Linked DNA regions of Homo sapiens: region 1 is linked to region 2. The links come from fine-mapping of genetic effects on gene expression. A gene starts in region 2. The other region holds a variant in brackets. All regions are shown on one strand. Distances are from middle to middle. Region 1 overlaps CREB3L3 (cAMP responsive element binding protein 3 like 3). Region 2 holds the start of SIRT6 (sirtuin 6).

What was found.
Region 1: its variant is fine-mapped to the expression of SIRT6 in pancreas (GTEx, PIP 0.95).

Annotation. Positions count from the first base shown.
Region 1 is chr19:4,154,122-4,159,597 of GRCh38, forward strand. CREB3L3 (cAMP responsive element binding protein 3 like 3) reads left to right here. Exons shown (of 10, transcript NM_032607.3): 2 at 778-906; 3 at 2,874-3,174. Among named protein-coding and RNA genes, the nearest start is that of CREB3L3, 3.2 kb to the left of the region's middle. The variant G/C (reference allele first, on the strand shown) is at 3,253.
Region 2 is chr19:4,180,548-4,185,789 of GRCh38, forward strand. It overlaps SIRT6 (sirtuin 6), which reads right to left and starts at 2,016. Exons shown (of 8, transcript NM_016539.4): 1 at 1,927-2,016; 2 at 235-362. The coding sequence starts at 1,992. ANKRD24 (ankyrin repeat domain 24) reads left to right here and starts at 2,142. Exons shown (of 22, transcript NM_001393985.1): 1 at 2,142-2,193. RefSeq lists enhancers at 1,990-2,079, 2,150-2,199.

The DNA.
Region 1 (5,476 bases), 26 kb before region 2:
AGTGCAATGGCACGATCTCAGCTCACTGCAACTTCCACCTCCTGGGTTCAAGAGATCTTCCTGCCTCAGCCTCCCAAGTAGTTGGGATTACAGGTGTGCACCACCACGCCCGGCTAATTTTTGTACTTTTCCTAGAGACAGGGTTTCACCATGTTGGCTAGGCTGGTCTCAAACTCCTGACTTCAGGTGAGCTGCCCGCCTCGGCTTCCCAGAGTGCTGGGATTACAGATGTGAGCCACCGTGCCTGCCATACTTTTTTGTTTTTTGAAACAAGGTCTTGCTCTGTGACCCAGGGTGGAGTGCAGTGGGGTGGCCATAGCTCACTGCAGCCTCAACCTCCTGGGTTCAAGGGATCCTCCTACCTCAGCCTCCCCAGTAGCTGGGACGACAAGTGTGTGCCACCGCAGCCAGCTAATTTTTTTAAATTATTTGCAGTAGGGATAGGGGTCTCTATGTTGCGCAGGCTGGTCTTGAACTCCTGGGCTCAAGTGATCCTCCTGCCCCGGCCTCCCAAAGTGCTGAGATTACAGGCATGAGCCACCACATCCAGCCTCTCCAGCACTTTAAGAGAAATTGGCTCTCACACTGTGGAATTCTCTCTATCAGCCTCAAAGTCCAGATTTGGAAAGGGAGTCTCAGCGAGGGGCAGCAGCTGGCCCAACCCGGAGGCAGAGCGGCAACTGAACTCTAGCCGGAAAGAGCCAGGGTTATGTGCACATGGGAGGTGGGGAGGACAGGGGCTGTATGTGACCCTCACATCTGTTCCTCGCGCCCCAGATGGCTTCTGCTGCCTGCTCCATGGACCCCATCGACAGCTTTGAGCTCCTGGATCTCCTGTTTGACCGGCAGGACGGCATCCTGAGACACGTGGAGCTGGGCGAGGGCTGGGGTCACGTCAAGGACCAGGTGAGGAGTCCACTGCAGTTGCCCCGGGACCACAGAGCTCCAGGCGGGCCAACTGAGGCCCCACGAAGGTGCTAGACCCGCCAGAGCCCAGCCAGAGCTCTGCTCAGCTCTACGATGCACTAATGGGTCACGGTGCTTGATTTTAGCCAAGCACATCATTTAGCGGGTAGCATCAGCTCCTTCTTACAGGTGGGGAATGGAGGCCCAGAGCAGGGTGGAAACTCATCCAAAGTCACACAGCAATTTGGAGTTAGGTTCAAACTCAAACTTGGGGCATCTCCCTGGCTAGGTTCGGTTCTCTTCTCCTTCCTCTCCTTCCTTTCTCTCTTTCTTCTTCTTTTTTTTTTTTTTGAAGGAGTCTCGCTCTGTTGCCCAGGCTGGAGTGCAGTGGTGCCATCTCGGCTCACTGCAACCTCTGCCTCCCGGGTTCAAGCGATTCTCTTGCCTCAGCCTCCCAAGTAGCTGGGATTACAGGCGCCCGCCACTGCACCTGGCTAATTTTTGTATTTTTAGTAGAGATGGGTTTCACTATCCTGGCCAGGCTGGTCTTGAACTCCTGACCTTGTGATCCACCCACCTCAGCCTCCCAAAGTGCTGAGATTACAGGCGTGTGCCACCGCGCCCGGCCCACTTTCTTTTTTTTCTTTCTTTTCTCTCTCTTTTTCTCTTTCCTTCCTTCCTTCCTTCCTTTTTTCCTTCCTTTCTCCCTCTTTCTTTTACTCTCTTTTTTTTTTTTTGAGATAGAGTTTCACTCTTGTCACCCAGGCTGGAGCGCAATGGCGCGATCTTGGCTCACTGCAACCTCCGCATCCCAGGTTCAAGTGATTCTCCTACCTCAACTTCCCGAGTAGCTGGGATTACAGGCAGCCGCCACCACGCTCGGCTAATTTCTTGTGTTTTTAGTAGAGATGGGGTTTCACCATGTTGGCCAGGCTGGTCTTGAACTTCTGACCTCGGGTGATCCACCTGCCTTGGCCTCCCAAAGTGCTGGGATTATAGGCGTGAGCCACCACACCCGGCCCTTTTTTCTCTTTCTTTCTCTCTCTCTCTCGTTTCTCTCTCTCTCTCTCTCTCTCTCTCTCTCTCTCTCTCCCCCCCTCTCTCTCTGTCTCTCTCTCTCTCCCCCTCCCTCCCTTCCTCCCTTCCTCCCTTCCTTCCTCTCTCTCTCTCTTTCTTAGACAGAGTTTCGCTGTTGTTTTGCCCAGGCTGGAGTGCAATGGTGTGATCTTGGCATACCGCAACCCCCACCTCCCAGGTTCAAGTGATTCTCCTGCCTCAGCTTCCCGAGTAGCTGAGATTACAGGCATGTGCCACCATGCCTGGCTAATTTTGAATTTTTAGTAGAGACGGGGTTTCTCCCTGTTGGTCAGGCTGGTCTCAAACTCCCGACCTCAGGTGATCTGCCCGCCTTGGCCTCCCAAAGTGCTGGGATTACAGGCCTGAGCCACCGTGCCTGGCTCTTTTGTTTTTCTTTTTTTCTTTTTTTTTTTTTTTTGAGATGGAGTCTTGCTCTGTTGCCTAGGGTGGAGTGCGGTGGCGTGATCTCGGCTCACTGCAGCCTCCGTCTTACGGGTTCAGAATCTCCTTCCTCAGACTCCCGAGTAGCTGGGACTACAGATGCCCGCCACCACGCCCAGCTACTTTTTGTATTTTTAGAAGAAATGGGGTTTCATCATGTTGGCCAGGCGGATCTCGAACTCCTGACCTCAAGTGATTCGCCCTCCTCGGCCTCCCAAAGTGCTGGGATTACAGGCAGGAGCCACTGCACCTGGCACTGGCTGGGATTTTTATGCTATGTTACTGCGTTTGAGCCTCAGCAGCCCCGGGAGGAAGAAGCAGTAACTCATCTTGGAGAAGGGAAGGACACCTAAGGCCCAAAGAGGGTCACTGGTTTCCCTGGGGCCACACACTAATCTAAAAAGAGTGAGCACTTCCTAATTCCTACTACCCCTCCCTGTCCACCCCAGCAGGTCCTGCCAAACCCCGACTCTGACGACTTCCTCAGCTCCATCCTGGGCTCTGGAGACTCACTGCCCAGCTCCCCACTCTGGTCCCCCGAAGGCAGTGATAGTGGCATCTCCGAAGACCTCCCCTCCGACCCCCAGGACACCCCTCCACGCAGCGGACCAGCCACCTCCCCCGCCGGCTGCCATCCTGCCCAGCCTGGCAAGGGGCCCTGCCTCTCCTATCATCCTGGCAACTCTTGCTCCACCACAACCCCAGGGCCAGTGATCCAAGTACCTGAAGCCTCTGTGACCATAGACCTGGGTGAGTCCTGCTGTGTCTCTGCCCACCGCCCTCACCTTGTTCCAGGGCCCTTCCTGTAAGTGAGGAAATGGAGGCCCA[G/C]AGAGGGCTGGCATCTTGTCCAAGGTCACACAGCAATTTGGAGCTGGGCCCAGACTCAAACTCAGGACACGTGTCTCCCTTGGCTAGGTGTTTCCATGCTTTCACGTGGATGCTATTGGGAGCCCATTTTCCAGATCGTGAAACAGTCCTGTCAGGTTGAGCAATGAGCTAAAACCACAGAGCTAGGATGCAACCCCGGCAGGTGGCTCAGGCACCAGGCATGGTGCTGACAAGCACAGCCCAAAGTCAGGGTCTTGCCTTCTACGTGTCTGTACCCCGTGCCTGGTTCCTAGTAGATTTTTTTTTATTTTTTATTTATTTTTATTTTTTGAGACAGAGTTTCACTCTGTCACCCAGGCTGGAGTAAAGTGGCGCGATCTCGGCTCACTGCAACCTCTGCCTTCCAGGTTCAAGCAATTCACCTGCCTCAGCCTCCTGAGTAGCTGGGATCACAAGCATATGCCACCATGCCCAGCTAATATTTATTTTTTAGTAGAGACGAGGTTTCACCATGTTGGCCAGGCTGGTCTTGAACTCCTGAGCTCAGGTGATCTGCCCACCTCAGCCTCCCAAAGTGCTGAGATTACAGGTGTGAGCCGCTCCACCCAGCCTGTAGATGCTCAATAAAAGTGCATGAGGTTACCAGGTCCTAGGTTCCAGGGTGCTCCTCCTAGACGTGGGGAACAGCAGATCAGTAATGATTTACTCTATTGATTAAGCATTCCCGGCGGGCCAGGCAGAGCCCTGGCTGGAGATACTTGGCCTCTGGGTGGCCTTTGTCCCTTGACCCTTGCTATGAGCTCTTCTTGGTCCCATTGGAGAGTTGACAAAACTGAGGCTCAGGCCCGGAGCGGTGACTCATGCCTGTAATCCCAGCACTTTGGGAGGCTGAGGCAGGCGGATCACTTGAGGTTAGGACTTCAAGACCAGCCTGGCCAACATGGTGAAACCCCATCTCTACTAAAAATACAAAATTAGCCGGGCATGGTGGGGGCCACCTGTAGTCCCAGCTACTCAGGAGCCTGAGGCAGGAGAATCACCTGAACCCGGGAGGCGGAGGTTGCAGTGAGCTGAGATCATGCCACTGCACTCCATCCTGGCTGACAGAGCCAGACTCTGTCTCGAAAAAAAGCCAAAAACAAAAAATGCTGGGCACAGTGGTTCACGCCTGTAATCCCAGCACTTTGGGAGGCCGAAGCGAGCGGATCACGAGGTCAAGAGATCGAGACCATCCTGGCCAACATGGTGAAACCTCTGTCTCTACTAAAAATACAAAAATTAGCTGGGTGTGGTGGCAGGCGCCTGTAGTCTCAGCTACTCGGGAGGCTAAGGCAGGAGAATCTCTTGAACCTGGGAGGTGGAGGTTGCGGTGAGCCAAGATTGCCACACTGCTCTCCAGCCTGGCGACAGAGCGAGACTCCGTCTCAAAAAAAAAAAAAAAAAAAAATCTGAGGCTCAGAGAGGTGAAGTCACTTACTCAAGGTCACACAGCCCTGCCCAACCAGGATTAGAACCAAGGGTTACCTGACCCAAAGTTTGTGTGCTGGGACAGCATGCCTACTGCATGCCGGCTACCAGGAGGGGACAACCAGAGGTGAATCAGACCTCGTCCCTGCCCCTTGGGTGAGATAACGCCTGGCTGGCTGCAAATCTAGCCTGTAATTCTGTGTGATAACAGCCACTCCCTTTTGAATCAGCCGGTGTCTCCTGACAATGTCCTGTGTCTTCCTCAGCCTTGTGGGACGGACAGAACCAAGCCCTGTTGAATTTGGGTCCCCATCTTTTTTTTTTTTTTGAGATGGAGTCTCGCTGTGTCACCCAGGCTGGAGGGCAGTGCCACATTCTCAGCTCACTGTAACGTCCACCACCCGGGTTCAAGTGATTCTCCTGCCTCAGCCTCCCGAGCAGCTGGGATTACAGGTGCACGCCACCAGGCCCGGCTAATTTTTGTATTTTTAATAGAGATGGGATTTCACCATGTTGGCCAGGCTGGTCTTGAACTCCTAACCTCAGATGATCCGCCTGCCTTGGCCTCCCAAAGTGCTGGGAATACAGGCGTGAGCCACCATGACTGGCTGGGTTCCCATCTTATAGCAGAGGGGAGACCGAGTCACTAGTGAGGGCTGCCCCCTTCAACTCAGGCCTTGGGGACTCCAAACTCTGGCAGAAGTCATATGAATGTTGGGATTAATCATGGGAGACTTGGTGGAGGAGGCGGTTAGAG
Region 2 (5,242 bases):
TTTTTGTATTTTTAGTAGAGACAGGGATTCACCATATTGGCCAGGCTGGTCTGGAATTCTTGACCTTGTGATCCACCATGCCCAGCCAAGGGACACATCTTAAAGGGAGTACCCAGGACACATCCAGGAGGAAAGCAGATGGATGTGTTCTCATTCCCAGATGTGTGTGGCTCGCAGGGAAGCCTCTGGCAGCCTGGTAGGCCTTGCCTCGACTTCCCCTGCACAATCACAGACCTGAAGTCGGGGATGCCAGAGGCAGTGCTGATGCCGGCACCCGTGTGGAACACCACACTGGAAGACTGCCAGACCAGCCTCGCCAGTTCCCACACCTTCCGCTCCAGCTCCTCCGGGGGGTCGAAGATCTGTGGGGGGAGAGAGCAGACGGAGGGGTCAAAACAGTTCCCCCAAGTGGCAAGGCCACGCACGAGCCACAGACTGAGCTGTCCCTGTCTTGCCTGAGGGAGGAAAATGGATTGGAAAAGGCAGCTTGTCCTCATGCCCCTCCTCTTCCTACAACCTTCCATGCCTCCCACCTGCCTTGTCAAAGCCCTAGCCCTTCCCACGGCCCACCAGGCCCTGCACTACCTCCCTTGCCCCCTCCCTGCCCTCTTCTCCTCCCTCTCCCTGCCTCACTCTGCTCCAGCCACACAGGTCTCCTCCTTGTTCCTCTATCACACCAGGCACAGTCCCGCCTCAGGGCCACACCCTTTAATGCTCTTCCCCCAGATACCCACATGGCTCCCTCCCTCACCTCCTGTAACTTGTGGCTTAGATGTCACTTCAGTGACAGTGATGCCTCCCTTGGCCAACTGGTTTCCATGCAACCCCTAGTCAGTCTCCCTTACTAGAAGGAGGGGTTTTTAATCTGTGTTGCTCCTGGCTGTGGCCTTAGTACCTAGAAAGTGCCTGAGCTACAGTAAGTGCTCTATAAATGTTGGTGGAATAAAGTGACTAACAGGCCGGGTATGGTGGCTCACGCCTATAATCCCAGCACTTTGGGAAGCCAAGGTGGGTGGATCACTTGAGATCAAGAGTTCAAGAGCAGACTGGCCAACATGGTGAAACCCCGCCTCTACTAAAAATACAAAAATTAGCCAGGCGTGGTGGCAGGTGCCTGTAGTCTCATCTACTCTACTCAGGAGGCTGAGGCAGGAGAATCGCTTGAACCTAGGAGGCGGAGGTTGCAGTGAGCCGAGATCGCGCCACTGCACTCCAGCCTGGGCGACAGAGAAACTCCATCTCAAAAATATAATAATAATAATAATAAAGTGACTAACAGCAGCAGTGAAGAGTGGGGCTTCTGGACGGGCGCACACCATCAGCGCTCATTAAATGCATGAGTCAGAATGCATGGGCCAGCCTTATGGAATGGGGCCATCTTCACCTCGTTTGCAGAAAGTTTGGAGATGGAGACCCAAAAGGGAAGTGACTTCCCCAAAGTCCCACAGTGCGTGGAGGGGGCAGCCGATCCCTCCACTTCCCCTCTGAGTGGCTGGAGGGATCTTTCTGGCACATTCTGTCCAGTCCCCTCGCCAGGGCAAAACCCTTCCCCATCACCCTCAGGATAAAGTGCCAACTCCCCAGCCTGGCATTTGAGCCCCGTCCTGGCCCGGCTCTGGAAACCTCCCAGGCCTAATCGTTCTCCAGGTGTGTTTATTCCCACCTCCCTTTGCGCCTGTCGTCCCCTCTTCCTGGAACTACATCCCCTCTCTCCCCGATCAGCCCCGACAGGGTGACCACAGAGTTGGGCGTGTTGGCGTCCCCCGGCGCGCAGGGGCGTCACTTCCCGCCCCTTCCTCACTGGGAAGTCCCTCCCATTGTCTAGCCTCAGTGCCCCCTGATATTCCCACAATGCCCCCCTGCCATCCGGCCGCTCCCAGCCCGCGGCCCTGGGGCGCGATGCTCGGGACCCTCAGACGCGCTCACCTCCGGGAGGCCGCACTTGCCCTTGTCCGCGTACGGCGACAGCCCCGCCGCGTAATTCACCGACATCCTCGACTGCCCCACGGGAACAATAAAGTTTCCCTTGTTGAGGCCGCTTCCGCCGGAAGCGGGGCGGGGCGGGGAAGAAGGAGGAACCGCGTTCCAGTCCTGCGCACCCGGCCTCCCACGGCAAGGCGCATGCGCCTCTTGCTGACGCCGCAGGCGACATGTTATCTGCTGTCAGAAGGAAGCCTGCCTCTTTGCATGCAGGTGTTTGCGGGGCTTGGGAAGGGGCTCCCCGATGACCCGGGCGGGAAATTGGGGCGGCCGCCTACGTGAGAGTTCTCCAGTCACCTCTAAAATGCGGGACACAGGCTATCCATGTCCCCACAACCCCTTTTACGGATTAGTAAATTCCGTAAGGACAGAGCCGGACAGCAGGGACCCCAGCCTAAGGGTTTTGAATGCCACGCAGAGTTACCTGAATATCTCATTTGTGTGTGTGTGTGTGTGTGTGTGTGTGTGTGTGACGGAGCCTCGCTCTGTTGCCCAGGCTGGAGTGCAGTGGCGCAATCTCGGTTCACTGCAACCTCCGCCTCTTGGGTTCAAGCGATTCTCCTGCCTCAGCCTCCCTAGTAGCTGGGATTACAGGCGCCCGCCACCACACCCAGCAAATTTTTGTATTTTTTAGTAGAGACGGGGTTTCTCCATGTTGGTCAGGCTGGTCCCGAACTCCTGACCTCAGGTGATCTGACCGCCTCGGCCTCCCAAAGTGCTGGGATTACAGGCGTGAGCCACTGCGTCCGGCCAAGTTATCTGAGTATCATCCAACTGGAGGTTCTGCATTCTGCAGGACAGGTCCTGCTCAAGGTCAATGGGGCTGGTGGCCTGGAGGACTCATTTAAGAATCATGTGTTGAGTACCTACTTTGTACTGGGCACACTGGAGAGCAAAGGTGGTACCATCTATGCCCTGGTGGCTGCGGGTGGACACAAACATGTGACCAGGTAATGGTGACATGGTGTGGTTGGGGTGCAATGGGTGATGCAGAGGGCACAGGGCAGTGAGGGGGCTCACAGGAGGCACCTGACCCAGGCTGGGGGCATCCGGGAGGGCTTCCTGGAGGAGGGGATGTTGCAGCAAAGATCTAAAAAGTGAGTGAGCCGGGCGCAGTGGCTCACACCTGTAATCCCAGCACTTTGGGAGGCCAAGGCAGGTGGATCACCTGAGATTGGGAGTTCGAGACCACCCTGACCAACATGGAGAAACCCCGTCTCTACTAAAAATACAAAATTAGCTGGGTGTGGTGGCCTGTAATCGCAGCTGCTCGGGAGGCTGAGGCAGGAGAATTGCTTGAACCCAGGAGGCGGAGATTGCGGTGAGCCGGAGATCGCGCCATTGCACTCCAGCCTGGGCAACAAGCATGAAACTCCGTCTCAAAAATAAATAAATAAATAAATAAAGAGTGCATGAGTCAGGTAGAGCCGGTTGGGGTGACATGAAGTACAGAAAGAATGTTCCTGGTGGGGGGAACAGCAAGTGCAAAGGCTGAGAAAGAGGAAGAGCATGGCTCCTTCCAGAAACTGAAATCAGTCCAGTGATGATAGGGAAGATCGTGGGTGTCTTCCCGCCAGAGCCAGTTGGCCAACAGGCAGTCCGCTGCCAGCCTGTCTCCTCCCTCGGCTCATCCCCGGCCCCCTGGGGCGGCCGCCTGCTCAGAGCCGATCAGGTGTCAGAGTGGAGCGGCTGGAGCTGCTCGTGGCCCAGCTGGGAGTGGGTAACCGGAGCCGGCAGTGGGCACTGTGGCCGGGAGCTCGGGGCACTGGAGCTGCAGGAGGTAGGGGAGGAAGGAGGTGGGAGAGGCCCAGGACGGAGGATCCCCTTATGGCCCCAGGCCCCTGAGCCCTTGTATGTGGGAGAAAGAAGCCGTGCTGAGTCCTAGCCAGGCTGCGGAGCTACCCAGGTACCCTGACACACACATGCACTCGTTCACCCACGCACTTCCCACTTGCCGGCCTGTGCCCTGCCTAGCTTCCTCCAAGGCAGGTGCTCAACATCCCACCCGGCCATCAGGCCCTTCTTATTTACCATCACCTCTTCCAGCAAGCAGCTTCCTAAATTTAGCAGGCGTTTCTCCCTCCCCCAAGCCCACGGATTGTCTTCTCCCAAGCAGCCTGTGAACTCCTCTGTTGGGTGTCTTATTACCCCCTGCTTTGGGTGTGATTGAATCCTCCAGTCAGAGGTAGAAGAAAAAAGGGTAGGTAGTGAGTGAATGGGCACCGGTGGAGGGGTAGATGAATGGATGGGTGGGTGGATGGATGGGGGGCGAATAGGTGGATTGGTGGTTTGGTAGATGGGTGAATGGGTAGATGTATGGATGGATGGGTGGATGGATGAATGGGTGGGTGATTGGGCAAATGGATGGAGGGATGGATAAGTGGATGGATGGATGGATGGAAGGATCCATGGATGGACTGGTGGGTGGGTGGATGGATGCACTGGTGGGTGGGTGGGTGGATGGATGGATTGGTGGTTGGGTGGGTGGATGGAGGGATGGATAAGTGGATGGATGAGTGGATGGGTGGGTGGGTGGATGGGTGGATGGGTGTGTGATTGGGTGGGCAGATGGGTGGATGGATGGATGCTTGGGCAGATGGATGGATGGGTGGTTGGGTGGATGGATGAAGGGATGGATAAGTGGATGGATGGGTGGATGAGTGGATGGATGAATGGTGGGAGTTGGTAGGTGTTTGGGTGGGTGGATGGATGTGTGGGTGAAATCTGATTAAAGGGTGATGAAGAACCATGAGAACATGAATTGGGTGGGTGGGTTTGTGGGTGGTGGCCAGTGGGTGGTTATACAGTGCTTAGGTGGGAGGATGGATGTCCAGGTGAGTGCATAGGTGGTAAATGCGTGGAAGGGTGGCTTGGAGAATTCACGAGTAGATAGGTGGACAGGTAGAGGCCATGCCAACCCCTACTCCTTGGTAAGAGGCAAATACAGATTCTCCATCACAGAAATCCCTTTCACACATAGGGCCTCACAGTCACACCCCTCAAAAAACACACCCCCTCAAGATAGGCCTGCCTGACCTCCGTGCCTGCCCATGCGGAACGTAGAACAGGCCCAGGTGGACAGAAGTGCACGTGTGCACACGCCCCACACTCAACGTCACACACATGCATGCAGCCATTGCCCCAGACCTCCACCCACTATGGGTGAATTGCTGTCACATGGAGGTTCCCTCTGACTATGTAGCAAACATGCCTCTGTGCTGAGAGCCGTCAGCCCTGGCTTCAGTCCCCAGGGAGCCCCTGA